7 linked regions of the Homo sapiens genome follow. The protein of the gene in region 3 purifies or fractionates together with the protein of the main gene of each other region. This does not show direct contact. Each region holds a gene or a part of one and is shown on either strand. Other genes may lie near its edges. The genes, in order: POTEF, RNASEL, LPAR4, CAND2, LMBRD2, TAMM41 and NLRX1.

Region 1 (3,500 bases), on a different chromosome or scaffold from region 3:
AAATTATAGCACATTGATGAAAGAAATTGAAAGTGACAAATAGAAAAAGTCCTATATCAATTGAAAAAATTAATATTGTCAAAATTTCAATGCTACTCAAAGCATTCTACAGATTAAATGCAACCGCTGTCAAATTCCAATGTCATTCTTCACAGAAATAGAAAAATTAGTCCTAAAATCTGAATGGAACCACAAAAGATGCTGAAAAACGAAAGCAATCTTTAGCAAAAAGAACAAACCTGGAGGCATCAGACTACCTAATCTTTGACAAAGCAAACAAGAAAATGGGAAAGGACACCCTATTCAACATATGCTGCTGGTATAATTGGCAAGCCACATGCAGAAAAATGAAGCCGTTCTTCAAAGGTTAAATACAGAATTACCACATGACTCAGTAAATTCACTCCTATGTATACACCAAAAATAAATTAAAACAAATGCCTTACACATAAAAGTATTTATAGCAACAAAAAGTAGGAAACAACAGAAATGTCCATGAATTTTGGAGTGGATTAATAAAATGTGGTCTGTCCATAAAATAAAATATTACTTGGCAATGAAAAAGAAAAACATATTAATACATGCTCCAAAAAGGATGAACATTGAAAACATGATAAATGAAAGTAGTAAGTCACACGTAACTATATTATTATGATTCCACTTACATGAAATGTCCAGAATAGGCAAATCCTTCCAGAATAGGCAAATTCTTAGGTAATAGATGGATGATTGCCTAGGGCTGGGAGAGGTTTAAAGGAAGAATGGGGAAAATAGGGAAAGATTGCTAATGGGTGCAAAGTTTCTTTTAAGGAGCATAAAAATGTTCTAAAATCATGGTGATTGTTTAACTAGTTAATACACTTAAAAAACTGAATTTTATACTTTAAATGAGTGAATTAAATAATATATAAATTGTATCTCAATGAACCTGTGAAAAAAGTTAAAAAATATGTGGTATGCATAAACAAAAAGTTCTTCATTTTATTTCCTAGGGTTTTGGGGAAAAGGTGGTGTTTGATTATATGAGTAAGTTCTTTAGAGGTGATTCAGGAGATTTTGGTGCACCCAACACCTGTGCAGTATACACTGTATACACTGCACCGGGGCAGGAGCTGGCTGCAATCCTGTGGCCCCAAATGCCCCCTTGCTGATGGCCTCGTGTTCTGGGTGCGGAGCAAAGAGGAGCAGGTGTTGAAGGCACCTCAGGCAGGCCCTGGGCTCGGTGGGCGTCTTGTGCTCCGCGATTTTGAGGCCATTTGCAGCCAGCTCCGTCAGCCCGAGCTCCCAGCTGCAGCTGCTGCCATGCACAACAGCACCGCCAGGAGTGTCCTGGGGGCTTTTTTCAAAGGAGGCTGTCAGCATCCTCAAGTTCCAGACGCTTAGCCCCAGTCCTCCTTTAAGAGGCTTTTTTTTTTTCACCAGAGGCTTCTCAGTGGCTTGAAAGCTCAGCTGACTCCCACGAAGTTTGCCGGAACTCAAGGCTGTCAGTGACATTCGTGGCGCCAAGACTTAAGCAGGCGCGTTGCATGCATCGGCCAGTGTCTGTGCCACGTGCCCTGACGCCACCTGAGATAAGCACGCCGCACGCGCACGCGCACGCCGCGCGCACACGCCCGGCAGCAGCTTGGCTGGCTTGTAACGGCTTGCACGCGCACGCCGCACGCGCATAACGGTTTGGCCGGCCTGTAACGGCTTGCACGCGCACGCCGCACGCGCGTAACGGCTTGGCTGGCCTGTAATGGCTTGCACGCGCATGCTGCACGCGCTTTAACGGCTTGGCTGGCCTGTAGCGGCTTGGCTTGGCTTTGCGTTCTTGGCTTGGCTTGGCGTTGGTAGCTTGGATTGACGTTTCCTGCTTGGATTGACGTTTTCTCTCTCGTGTTCCTTTGCTGGGCTTGACCTTTTCTCTGCTGGGTTTGGCATTCCCTTGGGTGGGCTGGGTGTTTTCTTGGGGGCGGGGGTTGGCCCTTTCTGGGGTGGGCGTGGGGTCGCCCAGGGGGGGCGTGGGCTTTCCTCGGGTGGGTGTGGGTTTTCCCTGGGTGGGGTGGGCTGGGCTGGAATCCCCTGCTGGGGTTGGCAGGTTTTGGCTGGGATTGACTTTTCTCTTCAAACAGATTGGAAACCCGGAGTTACCTGCTAGTTGGTGAAACTGGTTGGTAGACGCGATCTGTTGGCTACTACTGGCTTCTCCTGGCTGTTAAAAGCAGATGGTGGTTGAGGTTGATTCCATGCCGGCTGCCTCTTCTGTGAAGAAGCCATTTGGTCTCAGGAGCAAGATGGGCAAGTGGTGCTGCCGTTGCTTCCCCTGCTGCAGGGAGAGCGGCAAGAGCAACGTGGGCACTTCTGGAGACCACGACGACTCTGCTATGAAGACACTCAGGAGCAAGATGGGCAAGTGGTGCCGCCACTGCTTCCCCTGCTGCAGGGGGAGTGGCAAGAGCAACGTGGGCGCTTCTGGAGACCACGACGACTCTGCTATGAAGACACTCAGGAACAAGATGGGCAAGTGGTGCTGCCACTGCTTCCCCTGCTGCAGGGGGAGCAGCAAGAGCAAGGTGGGCGCTTGGGGAGACTACGATGACAGTGCCTTCATGGAGCCCAGGTACCACGTCCGTGGAGAAGATCTGGACAAGCTCCACAGAGCTGCCTGGTGGGGTAAAGTCCCCAGAAAGGATCTCATCGTCATGCTCAGGGACACTGACGTGAACAAGCAGGACAAGCAAAAGAGGTAACCAGGCCTGGGCTGGGAGGAGGTGGGACGTGGGGGGATGATGGGGACATACCCTCCTGGCGGGGGAGGAGGGGGACCTGGCTTTCTCGCCTCCGCAGGCCTCACACCACCCTGGATGTGGAAACCTCAGAGAGGTCAGGGTACAGGGCCCTTTATGAACAGCAACACAAAAACAAAACTTTAGCTGATTTCCAATCATAATTTCCCTCATAGAACACTAATAGACTGTTTTAAAGTGATTTAACTTGCAAAATTAATTAAGTCAATGCAGCAGATTATTTTTAATCTACAGATTTTAAAACAATGTTCTATACATTATAGAAAAGTGTATATTGAGAACTAAGAACGAAGCCCCATAACACATCAACTTCAGGGCTAAATATTCTTCAAATAAAATCCAGTATGGATTTTATATCAATGTACAGTATGTAAATATGTTCTTTACTGAGGAACCTTAGAAGGAAACTGAAATGGGAAGATGGTTCCTGTGCTTGAACAGGAAGATTGAATTTTCTTAAGATGTGAGCTTTTTGGCTGGGCGCGGTGGCTCACGCCTGTAATCCCAGCACTTTGGGAGGCGGGCGGATCATGAGGTCAGGAGATTGAGACCATCCTGGCTAACACGGTGAAACCCTGTCTCTACTAAAAAATATAAAAAAAATTAGCCGGGTGCGGTGGTAGACGCCTGTAGTCCCGGCTACTCAGGAGGCTGAGGCAGGAGAATGGCGTGAACCCGGGAGGTGGAGCTTGCAGTGAGCCGAGATAGTGC
Region 2 (3,061 bases), on a different chromosome or scaffold from region 3:
AGGCAAGGAGAAGCAAGTAACCTTGTTTAAAATATAAATTTTAGAGGGTACTAGTATAGTTTTGTTACATGGATATATTGTGTAGTGGTAAAGTTGGGCTTTTAGTGTAACCATTACCTGAATAACGCACATTGTACCCATTAAGTAATTTCTCATCCCTCTCCCTCCAACCCTCCCACCTTTCCAAGTCTCCAATTATATTATTCCACTCTGTACATCCATGTGTACACATTATTGAGCTCCCACTTATAAGAGAGAACATGTGATATTTGACTTTCTGTTTGTAAGTCATTTCACTTAAAATAATGGCCTCCAGTTCCGTCCATGTGGCCACAAAAGACATGATTTCATTCTTCTTTTTTATGGCTGAAATGGCCCAGACACATTTTCTTTATCCAATCATCTGTTGATGGACACTTAGGTGGATTCCATATCTTTGCTATTGTGAATAGTGCTGTAGTAAACATATGAGTGCCGGTATCTTTTTGATATAAGATTTCTTGGGCTGAGTGCAGTGGCTCACACCTGTAATCCCAGCACTTTGGGAGGCCGAGATGGGTGGATCATTTGAGGTCAGGAGTTTAAGACCAGCCTGGCCAACATGGCAAAACCCTGTCTCTACTAAAAATACAAAACTTAGCCAAGCATTGTGGCACACGTCTGTAATCCCAGCTACTTGGGCGGCTGAGGCATGAGAATTGCTTCAGCCTGTGAAGCAGAGGTTACAGCTTTATTTTGGCAGATACTCAGTACATTCTTTTCTCTGCATCCTCATCAACATCTGTTACTTTTTGACTTTTTAATAGTAGCCCCTAGTATAAGATGATATCTCATTGGTTTTAATTTGCATTTCTCTGATGATTAGTGATGTTAAGCATTTTTTCATATGCTTTTTGGCAATTTGTACGTCTTCTTTTGAGAAATGTCTATTCTTGTCATTTGCCCACTTTTTAATGGTGTTATTATTTTTTATTGTTAAGTTGTTTGAGTTCCTTGTAAATTCTGGATATCAATCCTCTGTTGGATGCATAGTTTGCAAATATTTTTTTTCCCATGCTGCAGGTTGTTTGTTCACTCTGTTTATTTCTTTTGCTGCGCAGAAGTTTTTAGTTTAATTAAACCCCATCTGTTTCTTTATTTTCATTGCTTGTGCTTTTGGGGTCTTAGTCATGAATTCTTTGCCTAGACCAATGTCCAGAAGAGTTTTTCCTAGGTTTTCTTTTAGTATTTTTATAGTTTCAGGTCTTACATTTAAGTCTTTAATCCATCTTGAGTTGATTTTTGTATACACTGAGAGAGAGAGGTCTAGTTTTAATCTTCTACATATGGCAGTCTAATTTTCCCAGCACCACTTACTGAATAGGGTGTCTTTTTCCCAGTGTATGTTTTTGCCGACTTTGTCTAAGATCAGTTGGTTGTAGATATGTGGCTTTATTTGTGGCTTCTGTATTCTGTTCCATTGATCTATGTGTCTATTTTTATACCAGTACTGTGCTGTTTTGGTTATCTTAGCCTTGCACAATAATTGGAGGTATATCATAATGTGATGCCTCCAACTTTGTTTTTTTTTCCTTAAGATGCCTGTGGCTATTTGGGCTCTTTTTTGGTTTCATGTGAATTTTAGGATTTTTTCTCTAATTCTGTGAAAAATGATGTTGGTATTTTGATAGGGATTGCATTGAATCTGTAGATTGCTTTGGGCGGGGTGATCACTTTAACAATATTAGTTATTCCTTTTGGAAATATACCTAAAAAAACAAAAACAAACAAACAAAACCGTTCACTTTGGCCATGGTTGCCAGGCCCAGTTTCAGTCTGAATAGCCCTTTTAAAGAAAGACATGTAATCAAGTACGAATTTGAAAGGGTGGCCACAGGATAAAAATATTGTATAGTATAATGAACGACTTTCCTAGTATAGTAGTCAAAGATTTTTTAACCATATTTTAATATATTTAATTTCTTATGAAAACAATTTACTTGGAAAATACAGACACACATTTGAACATACTTATAATCTCACATCCAGACACAATTATATATATAGTTTTAATTTTAAAATTTTTTTAATTTTTTTGCCAGGTGTGGCGGCTCACACCTGTAATCCCAGCACTTTGGGGGCCAAGGTGGGTGGATCACGAGGTCAGGAGTTTGAGACCAGCCTGGCCAACATGGTGAAACCCTGTCTCTACTAAAAATACAAAAAAAAAAAAATTAGCTGGGCATAGTGGCGGGTGCCTGTAATCCCAGCTACTCGGGAGGCTGAGGCAGGAGAATCGCTTGAACCCGGGAGGCGGAGGTTGCAGTGAGCCAAGATCGCACCACTGTACTCCAGCCCTGGTGACAGAGTGAGACTCCGTCTTGAAAAAAAAAAAATTATTTTTTTGAGATGGAGTCTTGCTCTGTTACTGAGACCGGAGTGCAGTGGTGCGATCTCAGCTCTCTGCAACCTCCACCTCCCAGGTTCAAGTGACTCTCCTGCCTCAGTCTCCCAAGTAGCTGGGATTACAGGCAGCGCCACCACGCCTGGCTAATTTTTTAGCAGAAACTTTTAGTAGAAACGAGGTTTCACTGTGTTGGCCAGGCTGGTCTCAATCTCCTGACCTCAGGTGATCCGCCCATTTCGGCCTCTGAAAGTGCTGGGACTACAGATGTGAGCCACCCCACCCAGCCCAGACACAATTATAGTTAGCATTTTGGTATACAGCATTTACTTCCATTTTTAAATTATTTTGCTTTATTAATTAGTTGGTAATTATAGAATATATGAATATATTCAAATTTATATTTTGCCTTTTGGTATGAATATTTCATCAGGATTTATTTTGTGTTGCTACCACATTTTTGTGTTATTTTTTGTTTTTTTAGATTAATGAATGTGTTATGAAAAAAATGAATAAGTTTTATGAAAAAAGAGGCAATTTCTACCAGAACACTGTGGGTGATCTGCTAAAGTTCATCCGGAATTTGGGAGAACACATTGATGAAGAAAAGCATAAAAAGTAAGTATTGTTTTCATTCCTACAAATTATATGTGAAATGAGAACAATTTAAAAAATCCA
Region 3 (3,500 bases):
TCAATCATTTTATTTTTTATTTGCATTATGTTTAACTGACAAATCATAATTGAACTACATTTATGTAAGTACGAGGCGATGTTTTAATATATGTATACTACATGAGGTGATTATGTCAAGCTAATTAACACATCCATCCCCTCACTTCAGTTTTATGTTTCCAGGAACATATATATTACACCCACAGCAAGCAGCCTGCAAATGCCTGGCACTTCTGCTCTGCTGCTCTGAGTAATCAAACTTTGTGGGAGAGAAAGGACAGACAAGAAAACATTACATTCTCAATCCTGAAGAGAGGGCATGGGAAAACTGCCACTGTGGCCCTATTCATAGCTCCCATTGCTTGAACACACAACCACCTTTGCCGTCTAGAAGTGAGGGTGTGGCGCTGGGACTTAACACAGCATTAGAAGCAAGGAGTTCTATTTCTGACTCAGACACTGGTTCACTCTGTAACTTGGCTATACTCTCTCTCTTCCTTGTATAAACTTTACCTCTAAGCCTCACAGCTAAAGCTAGGAAGATTCAATAGGGCTTGTGAATTGCTTTATGAGCTTGCTAGTATTCGGCCCTACCTAACTACAGAGAAACATTATGTAAGTTTGTTTCTTCCTCCCTTCCTGAAACAACTGTAACTTTATATTTCTGTCTTTTTTGGTATACTGAAGTTCACATTAGGAACACATCCTTCTAGTGTCATGTATACCTTGTGCCTCAGAAAGCTCCCCTTGAGTTTCAGCCTTAACTACACAATTTACTCAAACAGGACAATCCAGGAGTGTGCCCTCAAGGTAATATTTCCCATACAGGTATGATTAAAAAACCAGAAAGACATTTGGCTCTTGAGATGATTCTGAAGAAGAATCAATATTAGCCTCTTTTCTTACTGGCTTCCTTTCTTTTGACTAAAAGAAACAGCATTTCTAACTATTAGATCTTCCTAAATAGCCAACATATTGTGCACTAAATAGAGGCAAAGGACCAACACTTGAGCTTCAGATGAAATGAAGAAGGAAAAATATATGCTGATGCAGTTAATTACATTTTCCACTGCAAGGAGCATTAAACTACTGTCTTCTGCAAACCTCTGCTCCCAATTATTCTGACAATTAATCACCTAAGGGTGTCAGAGAGTGTTGGGTAGCTGCATTTTTATTGACAATGGACAGGAAGCAGGTCCCGTGGAGGTTGACCAAAAATAAATCTGACCCTCAACTTTTAACTTCAATCTACACCTGGAGCTAATTCAGAGTGGCCACAATTGTTTCCTCTTTTTTAAAAAATTTCTAATGATAGTAAAATACAGGTATACCATATTTGGGGTCCTTAAGGCTCCTGGAAGAAGTAAAGTTAGCCTTTTGGCCCTATAAGGATAAATAACCAAATCACTTCACTTCATGAAGTGCTAAACTTTCAGATCATACATTGAAAACAAAGCTCCAACTTCTGGCATAAATATGCCCGGTACCCTAGAAAAGCTGACTTGCTTTTGCTCCCTACAGAGGACAGTCCAGAGCTCAGGAAGACAAGGCCTTGAAGGCAGAGTATACTAAAATTATTTTTGCTTTGCTCCATTTTTAATAAGCGCAGGCCAGGTCAGAGTGCTTCTGATCCCCAGAGCATTTCCTTGTTCTACTCTGGTCAAAGTTTATGAAAGTTGACACAATAGTTTTCAGAGGAAGATGAAATCTATTGTGTTCTTATGTATAGATACTTAGCAGTGAAGCAGATTTAAAAATACACAAATGTTGTGAAAAATACAGCTCAAAACAATCCTGCTGGAGCGATAGGGAATATGTTCAGACTGTTGCTTCTCAAATTAGTGGTTTCTAACAGATAAGACTCTAGGTCAAGTCACAGGCATAGGTCACACTCATACAGGTTTTATATCAGTGTTCCTATACATTGGTTGATGCTTCATAATAGTTTTTGAAACAAAACCTAGCTTTATGGCATTCCATATGGAGGGAACCATAGATAAATGTTTCACTCAAGAATGGAGCTAGGAAATTGATCTAAATCAACCTCTTTTATTTTTGATGCAAGAAATAGCCTTTTAAAAGTGGCTTATCTACACCTAATCTGGTTTTCACTAAGATTATTAAGGCTGCTTTGTCTCTCCATTTTATTTGAGGAAAACAGGAAACTGATATGGGCCTCAATTTGATAAAATCCTGTTCTCAGTGATTAACTTGATATTTTTTTTTCTTTTCATCAAAAAAGAAAAAAAATACTTCAGTCTCTTATTAACACTTCACTTGATAACACAGTCCAATCTTTGGGAAATAATGTGGTCTGGTGCTCAACATGATGGGGCCAAAGATTGCATCAGCCCTACTAAAGTAGAATTTTCCCTAGTACTTAGTTACAGAGTAAGAAAACTACAGGTAAATTGCTCAACCTAATATTATAAAATTGTCTTGAGTCTTGAGACTCAATATCTCATCTCAGCAGAAGCCCCAGATCTTTGGGGACAATTTTTGGGTGTTCCCAAAATAACTCATTTCCAATTTCTGTAAGGGTCATATATACCAGCCAGGATTTTGACATTATTCCATATATTTGAACAGGTAAATCAGTTATCAATTTGGACACCAATTCATGTGATATACTTAGACACTGAAACTGATAATAGCAATAAAAAGAGTCTCCCATATCTAAAGGTAAATCCCAGTGGCAGAGAGGGGTTGAGCTAAAGAATCAATATTCATCTTCATCAAAATTGCCTGGATTATAACAAATTACAATTCCTCCATCCATTCTAGATCTTCGGATGATACAATCTTTAAAAAGTTGGAACTATTTGTTACAACAAAAGTTGGAGAATTAAATTAGGAATTTGCAGTTTCTCTACACATTTTCAGGTTATTATTATTATTTCAGTAATTTTCAGGAGGGTAGGACTCACCACATTAGTTCGAACCAAATCCTGGCACCAATTTTATCTAAGACTGGAATAACCAATGAGTTTCCTGGAGGCACTGTAGTTAGAGATTTCCTCCAATGGGTGCTGTGAAATAGAAATAGTCATAATAGTGTGCCATAAAGAGAGCTGATAGCTTTTCAATAAAATGTATATTTTCAATAAAATGATCTTATAGAAGATCATAAGACAGAAAAAGTATTATATGATATAAACCAGAGTAAATGAGACCCAATAAATTTTAAAATGGTATTTACATGCATTGGATTTCATTATTACAGAATTGCAGATAACAATGTATTTTCCAACCTGTCACTGCTGTGCTATATTTTTTTAGTAGTATTGACTAAACACTAGTGCATAAAATCCATATGTGGTAACCTATAATAATTTAAAGATAATGAGTGACAAAAGACATAAAAATATTTCCTCCACTTCCATAAGGTAATGCATTACATTAAAAATACCAAAACAAAGGAGAATTTTGTTTTGGCATGAACTTACATTGGGTCTTTTTTTTTTCTTTTTTTCTTTTCTTGGCAACAACTGTTACCATTGGGCAGGGTCCTTAATAAGG
Region 4 (3,500 bases), on a different chromosome or scaffold from region 3:
GATAAACCTGATGAGCCTCTGCCCTCAGTGAGTGTACAGTCCAATGGAGAAGATGCTCTGGTGGCCAGACTTGTATTGCAGTGTGAGAAGTGCTATAAAGGAGGGGTGCAGAGTGCTCTGAAAGGATCTTGTCCAGGGAACCATTGTGCTTAGGGGCTGTGGATGCAGGGGTAGGGCAGGGAGGTCAGTCATCCTTGAGCTGGGACATTTGAGCTGGGCTCTTGATGGGTGAATAGGAGGAGCTCAACAGATGAAGAAGAAGAGCGGGGATAGAAGGCCTATCTTGGGCAAAGAGGCACATCGCCTGGGTTGCCAGGCTGAGCTGGGCCCCCATGGACTGCAGCAGAAACACAACTTGGAGACCCTGGGTGCCATCTCAGAATGTCCCCTCAGCTGAGCAGACGTAGGGGTGCATGTGCTCACCTCAGGCCTTGGCCTGGCTCAAATCCAAACCTCCTCCTTCACTTTACCTTTGCCCAGAGGTGGGCACAGTCAGTCCTGCCATCCTGCCCATGCTGCCAGCCCAGCCTCCTTCTCTCTCCTAGCAACTTGTGGCTAATCTACCTGTTAAAAATAAATAGGTCATCGACCAGTCCACCCCTGGTAACAGGGCACTGTGGGCTGCAGTGACATCTAGGAGCAGGTCTGAGTCTGCACAGATGAGAGCCAGAATCCCAACTGTGATAGATTTTGCCACAGGAGGCGGGGGTCAGGGCTCTTGGTTGATTTGCTCAACCATGCTGGAAAGCAGGGCCAGCGTGGGGTGGTAGAGTGGCCCAGCAGGGTCAGTAAAAGCTGGAGGCTTTCTCCGAGGCAGCCTTACAGTATCTCCTCGCTGCTCTGTCCTGTTTTCTCCTGAGACTCCGCTCTCACATGCCTGCAGGAGCCAGTCAGTGGGTGAAGTGGGCCTAGTGGGGACCAGGTGAACTGGGGAGAGGGCAGCCACAACCTGATTCTAATCAGGTATTGTCACCAGGGATTGTAGGCCCCGTTGTACTCAAATATTCTGTTTTCAAGATAATCTGGAAGTCAGTGTTTTGTTTTTGTTTTTGTTTTTGTTTTTTTTTGAGTCTCACTCTGTCACCCAGGCTGGAGTGCTGTGGCACGATCTTGGCTCACTGCAACCTCTGCCTCCTGGGTTCAAGTGATTCTCCTGCCTCAGCCTCCCAAGTAGCTGGGACTACAGGTGTGCACCACCATACCTGGCTAATTTTCGTATTTTTAGTAGAGATGGGGTTTCCCCCTGTTGGCCAGGCTGGTCTCTAATTTCTGACCTTAAGTGATCTGGCGACCTTGGCCTCCCAAAGTGCTGGGATTGCAGGCGTGAGCTGCTGCGCCCAGCCTGGAAATCAGTATTTTTTTTTTTTTTTTTTTTTGAGATGGATACTCGCACTGTTACCCAGGCTGGAGTGCAGTGGCACGATCTCAGCTCACTGCAACCTTTGCCTCCCGGGTTCAAGTGATTCACCTGCCTCAGCCTTCCCAGTAGCTAGGATTACAGGTGTCTGCCACCGCGCTCGGCTAATTTTTGTATTTTTAATAGAGACAGGGTTTCACCATATTGGCCAGGCTGATCTAGAACTTTTGACCTCAGGTGATCCACCCGCCTCAGCCTCCTAAAGTGCTGGGATTACAGGCGTGAGCCGCCATGCCAGGCCAAAGTCAGTATTTTTGTGTCAACTTTCCCAATGTTCAAATGTTGACAAGTAATTTAAATTTTTGAAAACATGTTTGCAAGCTGGACACAGCTGAGGGCTACTAGTTTCAGACCTCTGCTCCTACCCTCTTAATTTTGGCGGGAATGGTGCCCAATTCCCGCACCATTCCTCGACTTGGAAAGTTGGCCCCAGCCTCAACTTTCCGTGGCTTCCAGCTTAGACTCCCACTGCAGTTTCAAATGCCTGGGACAGCATCAGGCTTTTGGTGTCAGGCCCCATGAATCCCTCACCTCCGGGTGGGTAGCCCTTGCCTCTGGTGCCCACCCTAGGTCAGTGAGCCAGTCAGCTATTGGCGCTGGTCTCCAAAATATGCCCATGCCCATCAGCATGGCGTGGGGCAGTGGTTTTCAAAGTGTGGTCCCTGACCCTCAGTGTCCTCCAGGAATTTGTTAGAAATGTGGATTCCTGGGCCCCAACTCAGACCTGCTGATTCAGAAACTCTGGGAATGGGGACTAGTATTATTTAACAAGCGCTGCTGGTGATTCTGATGCTGGCTATAGCTGGAGATCCACTGCTCTAAGGGCAGGGACTGAGCCGGTTCTCTGAGATGGGAGTGGACAGGGCTCGCCCTCCTCCATCTGTTTGGCAGACAGGCCTCTAGCTCTGACTTGGACACAAGGTGTCTGTTCAACCTTCTGGTATCCCTTGGCTGGGCGCGGTGGCTCACGCCTGTAATCCTAGCATTTTGGGAGGCCGAGGTGGGCGGATCACGAGGTCAGGAGATCAAGACCATCCTGGCTAACACAGTGAAACCCCACCTCTACTAAAAATACAAAAAATTAGCCGGGCGTGGTGGCCGGCACCTGTAGTCCCAGCTACTCGGGAGGCTGAGGCAGGAGAATGGTGTGAACCCAGGAGATGGAGCTTGCAGTGAGCTGAGATCGTGCCACTGCACTCCAGCCTGGGCAACAGAGCAAGACTCCATCTCAAAAAACAAAACAAAACAAAACAACCTTCTGGCATCACTTTCTCAGCTGTTGTGAGATGTGGATGATGTCCTGTGCCATTATAATAATGGCAGTGCCATTTACTGAGCACACACCATGTGCACTTAAAACACCATGAGGCAGGTACTAGTCTCATCCCTGTTTTCAGACAGGTAAACTAAGGCTTGGAGAGGTGAAATGACTTGCCCAAGTTCACACTCATAAATGGCTGAGGCGGGGGCCACCGATCCTGAAACATTATGCATTTAGCCAGCATGCTGAGCCGTTGCTAGTCTGCCACTATGTGGCAGTTGGTGTCACACATATGTGGGTCTCCTTGTAGCCCAACCATGCCCACTGCCCAAATAATCCACCATCATGTGGCACTTAACGACGGGGAAACATTCTGAGAAGTGCATCCTTAGGCGATTTTGTCCTTGTGTGAACCTCATAGAGTGTGCCTACACAACCTAGATGGTAGAGCCTACTACACTCCCAGGCTATATGGTGTGGCCTGTTGCTCCTAGGCTACAAACCTGTATTGAGTACTGTAGGCAGTTGTAACAGAGTGGTATTTGTGTGTCTAAACATAGAAAAGGTACAGTAAAAATAAGGTAGAAAAGATTAAAATGGCATGCCTGTATAGGGCAGCTCCATTAAAATCTTTTTTTTTTTTTTTTTTGGAGACGGAGTCTCTCTCTGTCGCCCAGGCTGGAGTACAGTGGCATGATCTTGGCTCACTGCAAGCTCCGCCTCCCGGGTTCACGCCATTCTCCTGCTTCAGCCTCCCAAGTAGCTGGGACTACAGGCGCCCGCCACCACACCTGGCTAATTTTTTGTATTTTGTTTAGTAGA
Region 5 (3,500 bases), on a different chromosome or scaffold from region 3:
GGGCCAGTGAGATAGGAAAATTAGGACAATGAAGTGTTTTGAGGAAAAGAGTATATAAAGTACCTTTTCAAATGTTGCACATAGATTAAGGATCATATATATTAAGACCTGACCATTGGATTTTAGAGAAGTGAGGGGAGAGGATAAAAAAGTCTGACTGTAATTTAAAAGAAATAAGAAGAGGAGCAATTGGAGACAGACTAGAAAACTCTAAAAATGTTTTCCTTATAAAAGGGAACAGAGAAAAGGGGTAGTAGCTGAAAGAGGATTGGGGGCATAGTCAAGAGAAATTATCACATGTAATTAGTAAATGATATAATAGAATTTGAGGCCAGGCGCGGTGGCTCACACCTGTAATCCCAGCACTTTGGGAGGCCGAGGCGGGCAGATCACAAGGTCAAGAGATTGAGACCATCCTGGCCAACATGGTGAAACCCCGTCTCTACTAAAAATACAAAAATTAGCTGGGCGTGGTGGTGCGTGCCTGTAGTCCCAGCTACTCGGGAGGCTGAGGCAGGAGAATCACTTGAACAGGAGGCGGAGGTTGCAGTGAGCCGAGATTGTGCCACTGCACTCCAGCCTACCTGTAGTCCCAGCTACTCGGGAGGCTGAGGCAGGAGAATCACTTGAACCCAGGAGGTGGAGGTTGCAGTGAGCCGAGATTGCGCCACTGCACTCCAGCCTACCTGTAGTCCCAGCTACTTGGGAGACTGAGGCAGGAGAATCGCTTGAACCCGGGAGGCAGAGGTTGCAGTGAGCCAAGATTGCACCACTACACTCCAGCCTGGGGACAGAATGAGACTCCGTCAAAAAAAAAAAAGAAATAAAGAGAGAGAGAGATGAAAGAAAAGAAAGACAAAAAGAAAGAAAGAGAGAAAGAAAGAAAGAGAAAGAAAAGAAAAAATTCATAGAATTTGATAAGACAATAGAGAATTTCTAAGACAATGTTCATGACTAGTAGAGATGAGATGGTGGGAAATAGTGAACAATGAAGAGAATGGTGGAGGTAAGGCACAGATGTAACTAGCTGAGAAGGTGTAGTGTTAGAAACTTGGGAAAATTCTCTGATCGCTTCTGTTTTCTCAATGAAATGTGGAGAGTAAGTATAGGAGAGGAGATTTTAGAGATTTGAGGAGGGAAGAGAAGGTGCAAAATAGTTGCCTAGGAGAGTGGCATGGGAGAAGATTGGGGAATTATAGTAGGCTAGTGAGGCAGTACTGAGGACCCACTTGAAGCTAGTGATTAAGAATTTAAAGTGAGGCCAGTCAACAAGGTGGGGTGTCTTTCTCCTGCAATGTGCAGCTGTGTGGATGCAGGCTGAGAGTAGCCAGCGAGTTGGATTTAAACAGGTGTGATTTAGCTTAGCAGGTACAGTGGAGCAAAATGGGGCAAAGTAAGTGGGATACTGTCCTCAAAGACTGGAATCTGAGCTGCATGAGGAAGGAAGGGTATCAAAGTGTTAAATAACGGTAAAATGTGATAGAATAAATTGATTTTTCATCCAGGTATGGTCAGTTAGTGGAGTTGAAATACTGTACTAGATGAAGGTATTGTTTGAAGACAAGGATGCTGGAATGTGATTATATGGAAGGGCTGGAGATATTGATAATAAAAGGTTTAGGCATCACTATAGCAACAAGTAATTGAGGTAGGGTGGAGGGAAAGTTCATTAGAGGAGAGGAGGTCAAAGAAATGAGAGATAAGGGTATTGAAAGGGGAATCATTTATGTGGATATTGAAATCACTAGGAATTATGAGAGGAAAGTTGTAAAGAATTACAGTGAACCAGAAGCTAACTATTCAGTAAATGAACTAAAAATATAGCTTTTTAATTTATTGAGCTTTCTTTTTTAAATTTTTATTTATACCTAAATTCAGACTTAAAACCAAAATAGTGCTGGGAGTGGTGCCTCACACCTGTAACCCCAACACTTTGTGAGGCCGAGGTGGGTGGATCATGGGGTCAGGAGATTGAGACCATCCTGGCTAACACGGTGAAACCCTGTCTCTACTAAAAATACAAAAAATTAGCTGGGCATGGTGGCACGTGTCTAATAAAAATACAGAAAATTAGATGGGAGTGGTGGCACACGCCTGTAATTCCAGTTACTTGGGAGGCTGAGGCAGGAGAATCACTTAAACCCCGGAGGCAGAGGTTGCAGTGAGCCGAGATCATGCCACTGCACTCCAGCCTGGGCGACAGAGCGAGACTCCATCTCAAAAAAAAAAAAACAAAAAACCAAAACAGTACAAAATATTCCCATATACCCTTCAACCAGGCTCTCCAATGTTAATATTTTGCCATATTGATTTGCTTTTTCTGTATGTATTTTTTTATTACTATTTTAGAGTTGTATCCAGACATGATGCCTCCTTGTTCCTAAATGTTTCCGTGTATATTTTCTAAAAATAAAGATATTTTCTTACATAGCCAAATACAGCCATCAAAATAAAAAAATTAATATTTATACTCTACCATTATTTACAGACCTTATTCAGATTTTGCTATAATTATCCCAATAATATTTTTTGTAAAAAATCCCAGATCATGCATCGCATTCAGTTGTTGTGTCTCCTTAGTTTCCTCTAATCTGACACAGTTTCTCAGTCTTTGTGTTTTATGATATATCAGAAATGTTTTGGGGAGTATAGGCCAGTTTTTTGTTGAATGTCCCTGAATTTGACTTTGATGTTTCTTTAAAATTAGACGCAAGTTCTGCATTTTTCACAGGACTACCACAGCAGCAATGTCACATTCCTATCAGTACATCATAGCAGGAGGCACATGATGTCAGTTTGTCCCATCATGGGTGTCATTTGGTTAGGTTCGTATCTGCCTGGATTCTCCACTGTAAAATTGCTGTTTTTCTCTTTGTAATTAAGTATCTTATTAGGAGCTATTTTGAAACAATGTAAATATCCCATTACTCTTTTGTAGTTTTCCTAATCATTTTTTTCTTTTGTCTTCTAGAATGGTACTGGGAATGTCTTTTGCGACCATGGTTTTACAAGATACTTGCTGTGGTTCTGTCCATCTTCTCTGTGATTGTTGTGTGGTCAGAGTGCACATTCTTTAGCACTACTCCTGTCTTATCCCTCTTTGCGGTCTTCATACAGCTGGCAGAAAAAACATATAATTATATTTATATCGAGGTCAGTTTATTTTATGTCTGTCATAAATAGATGTCACTTCATAGTATAATCCTTAACTATTTTCTCCATGTATTTCTTCTAGTAAAAATGAAAGCAGTGAGGTTTTCTGCAGTGTTGTTATTCAAACTTCCAGAAATGTGCTTCATTATTTTACCCACACTATAGAAATTAATAACTGTATTTGAGGAGAGATGAAAAGTTGCAAGATAGTGCAGAAATCTGAGATTTTTTTTTTCTTTCTGTTTTTTTTGGAGGCAGAATCTTGCTCTGTCACCCAGGCTGGAGTGTGGTGGCATGAACATGGCTCACTGCAGCCTCAACTTCCCGGGCTCAAGAAATCCTCTCAC
Region 6 (3,500 bases), on a different chromosome or scaffold from region 3:
TACTTTTGTAATTTTTGCAGAGACAGGGTCTTGCTCTGTTGCCCAAGCTGGTCTCAAACTCCTGGCCTCAAGTGATTCTCCCTCCTGGACTTCCTAAAGTGTTGGGAGTACAGGCGTGAGCCACTGCACCTGGCCTGGGTTCAGAGTTTTGGATAAACATCAGGGCAGTGCTGGGGAAAATGCTGTGGAACGTGGGCCATGTCTGAGGGAATGTACTCAACAATGTATGAGACACATCAAATGGAGTTGATTGAGGAAAGCTGTGTTCTCGATGTTATAAAAGCACAAAAAAATGCCACCAATCTCTTTTCTCAGACCACCACAAAACACAGACACATCTTTTAAATAAATTCTAGAAGTTGTGCTCTAGGAACCAAAAGAAACATTGTTTCTCCCTTTGACAGTGATTTAGGATCCAGGAATTTAAAAACAGAAGTATTTTCACCATCTTACTTCAAACAAATAAAAATGCAGATTTAGAAAACCCTCAAATTTTTAGTGCTTTCTTCTTCTGAGAGGCAATCTCTCTATCTCGCTAAACAAAAAGGAAGAAATAATACATTCCAATCACAAACAAAGTCTGCTTTTCCCCATGGCTGGCATTTCCTCAACATCAAATTCATAAACGTACCTAGTCGCACCACATCTCCACAGTCGGGATCATGAGCCACTTGGAATAAAGTTTCTTCCACATCTCTGTTTTTTCCAGGAGGGTCCATAATATGATTTATCTGTTGCTGTAAGGTTTTGGGCAATGTCATCAGCTGAGTGAACTGTCCTTCTGGGCTTTTATCTATCTGAAGGGAGGAAAAAAAAGACGACGTCTATGGAAGTGCTTTAAATCCTACAAATACTCCAAAACTCAGGGCTTCTCTTTAAAAATCACACAAACATATATGCACCCACACCCCTGGCGAGGCAGCAAGCTAAGGAAACTCTCTTTTTCTGAAACTGAATGGGTAAGTGTTCAGGAGTCTAAGTCCCTTCAAAAAGGACAATTCTTGTCCTATAATATTCCATTTCTACCTGAGAAAAGAATAGAAGCCACTCTCAAGGATCAATTTCTGACTTTTGGTTTTAAAATTTATATTTGTCTTAAATCCAGCAGTCAAAGGAAGTGGTGCTGCAGTTGACACTCGTGGAGGCCGCGTCAAATCCAGGCACTGAGATGACCCCTCCCATTTCAAACACAGGGAGACTGGCGTGCCCTGATCACATCACCAATGAGAGTAAGTGGGATCTGAATTGTGTCTCCTGCCTGTAGGGCCTTTTAGTATGCTGTATTTCACAAACTGTAGGAATACACTGATGACAGAAACTAATCTTACTTACTTTTAATCCCCAGCACACAGTAGGTACTCAAAAAACAATAAGGAAATGAGTAACTGAATCAATACAACTTAGTTGTCCTAAAGCTACTATGCCAGCGGCTTCGGTTCCCAAAGTATTCTAAAACATACTAAGGTGCTGAAGATAAATATATAAATAAAACATGTAAAACTATGTGTCAGACTTTACTCAGAAACCCTTGAATCAAAAGTTAGCCACAGAGCTGAGGCCAGACCTAGCTTTCCTAACTCCAAGTTTCATACACTGTGCCTCGTGGAATGAATTTTTAAAAATCTTGTAAACATTGATTTCCTGCCAAGTGCAGAACCAGTAACACTGCCCTCAACAGCCCATCACATTATTTCCCAAGGAAGAATCTGTCTTGTATCCTTTTAACAAATATTTAGGTTTTAACTTCAACTAAGAGAAGAGTAAGAAAAAATCAGATCAATGTATTACATTTTAGGCTTAGAGTTTACAGATAGGACGAACTTTCTTAATAATTAGAATCCACTCATTCTACCATTTTTTAAATTGAATAAATATTTATTAAGTACATACCAAATGGGCCAGGAGCACAGGTTCACACCTGTAATCCCAACAGTTTGGGAGGCTGAGGCAGGAGAATTGCTTGAGCACAAAAATTCAACATCAGCCCTAGCAAAAGAGTGAGATATCCGGCTCTACGAAAAAAAAAAAGAAAACAAAAAAAAGCCAGACATGGTGGTGCAAGCCTACAGTTCTGTCTACTTGGGAGGCTGAGGTGGGAGGATCACTTGAGCCTGGGAAGTTGAGGCTACGATGAGTGGTGATTGTGCCACTGCACTACAGCCTGGGTGACAAGACCAAGATGGTATCAAAAAAAACAAAAAAGTATATACCAAATACCTGAATTTTCTAGTTTTGTCTATAAACTCTATGAAGAGAAGGAGAAAAATGTTATTATTTAATGGCTCCATAAAGCTAGAGGGGTAAATATTTAGGTTTTTATCTAAATATTTGATATTTATCACTAGGATGGTTCTAAATTCACAGGCCCCATCCTCTACTTAGCTTTGGCTACAAAAATGACAACAAATTTGAGTATTTATGTAAAATAATCTTAGAAATGACATTTATGGACTTATGTTTTGAGGCCACATATTGGGATTAGTTAGAATAAACTTATATTTAAGTTATGCTTTACCTATGAAGCTTCCAACGGCTTGAGTGACATATAAAAAAATTAGAAAGTACTTATCTGCCACTGCTTTCTCTTGAGGAAAATAATGCACTGGAATTTTCACTTGAAAGCATGAGTGTAAAGATAAAATACCAGGTGACATGATTTAAAAATTTGGTAAATTCTCATTTTCCTTACACTAACTCTCATTAAAATAACGAAAGTGAAAGCATTCAGCTAAACTGTGAAAGTCAAATTGCATTTTAAAAGCGGACATGGATACAATTATTATATGTCAACTTAAGAAAAAAGCAGATATGGAAAAAACTTTATATGATTCCATGCATATGAACTGTCCAGAACAGAAAAATTACAGAGACAGAAGTGGATTAGTGGTTGCCTGGGTGAGGGGAGAGCTGGGGACGGCTAAAGGGTATGGAGTGACAGAAATATTCTAAAATTACATTGTGGTGATGGCTGTGCAGCTCTGTGACTATACTATAAACACTAGCTTTTATGGTGTATGAGGTATTCATCAATAAAGCTAATATTTTGTTATTATTATTTTTGAGACAGAGTCTCGCTCTGTTGCCCAGGCTGGAGTGCAGTGGCGCGATCTCAGCTCGCTGCAACCTCCATCTCCTAGGCTCAAGTGATTCTCATGCCTCAGCCTCCCGAGTAGCTGGGATTACAGGCGCACACCACCATGCCTGGCTAATTTTTGTATTTTTAGTAGAGATGGGGTTTCACCATGTTGGCCAGGCTAGTTTTGAACTCCTGGCCTCAACTGATCCACCCACCTCAGCCTCCCAAAGTGCTGGGATTAAAGGCATGAAGCTGCCATTCTCTCCCCCTGGCCAAAAGAGTAAAGAAAAAATAAAACCATATCCCAGGACGAATGGCAGAGATGAGCACCACCTGTAGACCTAAAAGATGCAAGGGTAAGGCAGATAATTTTATGTGTCAACTCAGAGCAGTGGCACAGCCTGAAGACACTGTCCTGCGAGGA
Region 7 (3,500 bases), on a different chromosome or scaffold from region 3:
CCATGATGCCCAGTACCAGGCTGACGTCCTCCCCAACACGGCCCACGAGCTCAGCCACTTCCTTGCCCACCTTTTGCAGGGTCGTCTTGCGCAAACCCAGCACAATGTAGAGGGCAGCCAGGTATTCCTGCATGGCGGGCACGGTGAACACGAAGGTGCCTGCACGCCCTGGCTCCACACATGGGGCCAGGAAAAACCTCAGGGCATCCCGACGGAAGATGTGCAGCAGCTGAAACTCCTCCTCCGTCCTGATGCCAGCCTCCAGGCAGCCACAGACATCCTCTTCAGAGAAGTAGGTCTTGCGGGAGGACACCCCCTCATAGGCCAACTTGCCCATGGTTCGGGCTGCATAGGCCATCAGGGACAAATTGGAGGGGTCAGTGCTGTCCAGGGTTTCCCCGCTGAAGTTGAGGCGCAGGAAGCTGGTATAGATGCTTGTAAGGGTCTGCCCAGCAGGCGTGGGGGCATGCAGGAAGTGCAAGGTGGCACAAACGAGCCAGCAATAGGACGGCAGGAAGCAGGCAGCGGCTATCTGGTGGTGCCCCTCCAGGTTCCGGGAGAGCATCTGCACCAGGTGGTCACGCTGAGCTGGTGTGGCAGAGACACCTGAACCGCCAACGGCATACCCGCAGTACGGCTGGTTGAGGCGGAGCTGGAAGTAGAGCTTCTGCAGGTTGGTATCAGAGAAACCGCAGATCTCACCATAGCGGCCCACGTACTTGCTGGGGATACGGCCAATGGCAGAGGGCCGAGTGGTCACCAGAATGCTGGCCTGGGAAGAGCATGGTTGAGAGTTAAGAAAGACCTTAGTGTCCTGTTGACTGCTTCTATTCCCAGGGGACCCCTGAAGACGGAGTGTCCAAGGATGAAGACATTGATGAGGATAACAGTTATAACTAGCAATTACTGAACACCTGCTGTGATCCAGGCCGCTGTGCTAATATTATATGCAGTACCCCATTTGATCAGAGCAACTCAAAAAGAAAGGAACAGAAGGCTGGGGAAGTTACTGACTTGCTCAGGGTCGCACCACTGGGAAGTGAAGGGACCAGGAGTTAAAGTAACCCAGGACCTAGGGGGCGAGTCAACGGGCAGCAGTGATAACCTGGGGTAAAGGGCCACCCACCTGAGGCAGCATGTATTTGCGCAGCAGGTTGACGATGATAGCAGCTGGTTCCTGCGGTTCCTCCGGGTCACTACAAAGTCCCGTGCCTGCCAGCCGGAAGTCGAGGTTGAGATGCTCTAAGCCATGGAGCACAAAGAGGAGGTGGGACCCAGCAGCAGCCATCAGGGGCAGAACCTCCTTCAGGGGCGTGTAGCGCTGGGCCACAAGTTGGCACAGGGAGGCTGGGGCAGGGCCCAGGGATGACAGGTCCTCACAGGAGAAGGGGATGAGCAGCTCGAAGGCCGGCAGCCGCCCATAACACCAGTCCAGAACCATCTTGCGCACCAGCGTGCTCTTGCCTGTGCCCACTGTCCCATACAGCACCACTGTCTGCACCCGGCGCCCACAGGCATCCGGGTTAAAGAGCTGAGACAAGGCCAGTGGGGGGAGCCCGGCCTGGGGTGGCTGATGCTCCAGGGCCAGCTCCGCGGGTGGGCGAAGTAGCTCATCAGGGGTACTCTCGCGGATCACAGGGTCAACGTGGACCGTGTCTAGGGCAAAGGTTGGGCCAAACTGGCGCTCCTCCCTGGGCAGCCGGCTGAACCACTCAGCCAGGTTCCGGCGGTGCCGCTGTATAGCTTCTGAGTGGGAAGATAAGGGAAATGTGTCAGGGAAAGGGGCCTGGAGATGTAGCTTAGGGCCAATCAGGGCGGTGGTGAGGTCAGGCTGGGACATCACGGCATAGATGCTGGGGCCCACAATGGTGGGCACACAAGACTCCCTGAGAAAATATAGACTGTCCAGAAAGTCTGGAACCCCTATGTCAGAAAGTGGGAAGCCACTGGACAAACTGGTTTCACAGTGACCTATGTGCCGTCTTAACCTGCTTGACCCAACTTTGTTGAGCATAGGGATGGTATGGCTCTCCTAGCGCTTTGTACATATAAGTGTGCATTGCAAGAGTATTGCAGGAAGGGATACATAGACGGATGGGAGGGAGAGAGAGAGAGGAGGAGGGACCACCGATGGAAGATGGCAGTGGATCCTCTATGCCTCCCTCACCCTGCTTCTCCTTCCAGCCCCGTCTGCCCACCACACCCCCTGACCAGGGTCCCAGCCAGTCCCTTTACCAGTTGCAGAGGCGCTGGGGAACAGCCGTCCATGCCTCCCGGGTGGGGGAGCGCTATCTACCGAGCTTCCGTGGTGGCGTATAAAGGCCCTGGGAACAAGGAGAGGGGATGAGCTGGGACTTGTAACTTGGATCAGCCCCTTCACAGGCTCTGGGTCCAAGCCTATCTGCACTGCTAGACTTCTGGTTTCCTGAGATAAAGGCCCCACACTGGACCCCCAAGTTTAGAGGCTTGTCTGACTCTCACACCCTTCCCAGGTGCTGAGGCCTTAGCCCTAGCCCTCCAGACCCCACTGCTGACTGCCCGCCTGGAACTCAGGCTGGCCATGTGAGGCTCCACCCACTTCCCACAGGGTCCTCCCTCCACTGACTACTATGCCTTCTACCACAGATGATCTAAGCCAACTTCCTCTCAGGCCTTGGAGCTGCCACTGTCCTCCCACCCCCAAAGGACCAAGCCCCTCCCCAAGGTCCCCAAGAGATCAAGCTAGCCCCAAGTCCTGACCCTTCCCAGTCTGCTCTGTTGTGCCCAGACTAGTCCTAAGGTATGACACCCAGGCCTCACCTAGGGGGCCCAAAGGGACGCTCCCCTTGAAGGGGCCAACTCCAGTGGATCAGGAAGGGGATACGATCATCTACAGAGAGAAGGAAGAAATAGCATCTGCAGATCCCATGCAATACACAGAACCCATGTCTACATCAAACCCCCCAGTATTTGCTCTCATAGCAGCATGTACTGCCCCTTTGCAGCAGTTATTTTGCAATTTTATATTTCATTGTGTGATTATTCGATTAACATTCATTCCTCTCTCCTCCATGAGAGGGATCACATTTGGGTGTTTTAAAATTTTTTTGTCCCCTTTACGTCTGTTTTTGTTCACAATTATTTACTTAGAACTTAACACCAGGTCTGCGGTACGGCAGGCACTCAGTAAATCTCTGTTGTATGTAAAGTAAAATCAGACAAGTTCCTAGACTTATGTAGCTACAAGAGACTCTCGAAGATGATCTAGTCCAACTCTCTTTTTTTTTTTTTGAGACAGAGTCTTACTCTATTGTCCAGGCTGGAGTGCAATGGTGCGATCTCAGCTCACTGCAACTTCTGCCTCCCGGTTCAAATGATTCTCCTGCCTCAGCCTCCCAACTAGCTGGGATTACAGGTGTGCACCACTACACCTGGTTAATTTTTTTTTTTGTAGTTTTAATAGAGACAGGGTTTCACCATGTTGCCAGGCTGGTCTCAAACTCCTGATCTTGTGATCCGCC

Evidence for each region.
Region 1: the proteins of LPAR4 (region 3) and POTEF purify together in Homo sapiens (affinity purification with mass spectrometry; 2 studies listed by BioGRID and IntAct, with this or other methods). This does not show direct contact.
Region 2: the proteins of LPAR4 (region 3) and RNASEL purify together in Homo sapiens (affinity purification with mass spectrometry; 2 studies listed by BioGRID and IntAct, with this or other methods). This does not show direct contact.
Region 4: the proteins of LPAR4 (region 3) and CAND2 purify together in Homo sapiens (affinity purification with mass spectrometry; 2 studies listed by BioGRID and IntAct, with this or other methods). This does not show direct contact.
Region 5: the proteins of LPAR4 (region 3) and LMBRD2 purify together in Homo sapiens (affinity purification with mass spectrometry; 2 studies listed by BioGRID and IntAct, with this or other methods). This does not show direct contact.
Region 6: the proteins of LPAR4 (region 3) and TAMM41 purify together in Homo sapiens (affinity purification with mass spectrometry; 2 studies listed by BioGRID and IntAct, with this or other methods). This does not show direct contact.
Region 7: the proteins of LPAR4 (region 3) and NLRX1 purify together in Homo sapiens (affinity purification with mass spectrometry; 2 studies listed by BioGRID and IntAct, with this or other methods). This does not show direct contact.

Annotation. Positions count from the first base shown.
Region 1 is NC_000002.12:130,119,223-130,122,722, reverse strand, and holds part of POTEF (POTE ankyrin domain family member F), read left to right. Parts: intron 1-1,424; exon of another isoform or gene 1,425-2,114; 5' UTR 2,115-2,207; coding exon 2,208-2,728; intron 2,729-3,500.
Region 2 is NC_000001.11:182,576,196-182,579,256, reverse strand, and holds part of RNASEL (2-5A-dependent ribonuclease), read left to right. Parts: intron 1-2,867; coding exon 2,868-3,001; intron 3,002-3,061.
Region 3 is NC_000023.11:78,750,720-78,754,219, reverse strand, and holds part of LPAR4 (lysophosphatidic acid receptor 4), read right to left. Parts: exon of another isoform or gene 3,491-3,500; 5' UTR 3,428-3,490; intron 3,011-3,427; 5' UTR 2,909-3,010; intron 1-2,908. UniProt on the Homo sapiens protein: Receptor for lysophosphatidic acid (LPA), a mediator of diverse cellular activities. Transduces a signal by increasing the intracellular calcium ions and by stimulating adenylyl cyclase activity.
Region 4 is NC_000003.12:12,799,680-12,803,179, forward strand, and holds part of CAND2 (cullin-associated NEDD8-dissociated protein 2), read left to right. Parts: intron 1-3,500.
Region 5 is NC_000005.10:36,117,388-36,120,887, reverse strand, and holds part of LMBRD2 (G-protein coupled receptor-associated protein LMBRD2), read left to right. Parts: intron 1-2,971; coding exon 2,972-3,153; intron 3,154-3,500. UniProt on the Homo sapiens protein: Recruited to ligand-activated beta-2 adrenergic receptor/ADRB2, it negatively regulates the adrenergic receptor signaling pathway. May also regulate other G-protein coupled receptors including type-1 angiotensin II receptor/AGTR1.
Region 6 is NC_000003.12:11,808,886-11,812,385, forward strand, and holds part of TAMM41 (phosphatidate cytidylyltransferase, mitochondrial isoform a precursor), read right to left. Parts: intron 2,013-3,500; coding exon of another isoform or gene 1,891-2,012; intron 798-1,890; coding exon 632-797; exon of another isoform or gene 1-631. UniProt on the Homo sapiens protein: Catalyzes the conversion of phosphatidic acid (PA) to CDP-diacylglycerol (CDP-DAG), an essential intermediate in the synthesis of phosphatidylglycerol, cardiolipin and phosphatidylinositol.
Region 7 is NC_000011.10:119,171,725-119,175,224, reverse strand, and holds part of NLRX1 (NLR family member X1 isoform 1 precursor), read right to left. Parts: intron 2,870-3,500; coding exon 2,800-2,869; intron 2,325-2,799; coding exon 2,236-2,324; intron 1,747-2,235; coding exon 1,127-1,746; intron 773-1,126; coding exon 1-772.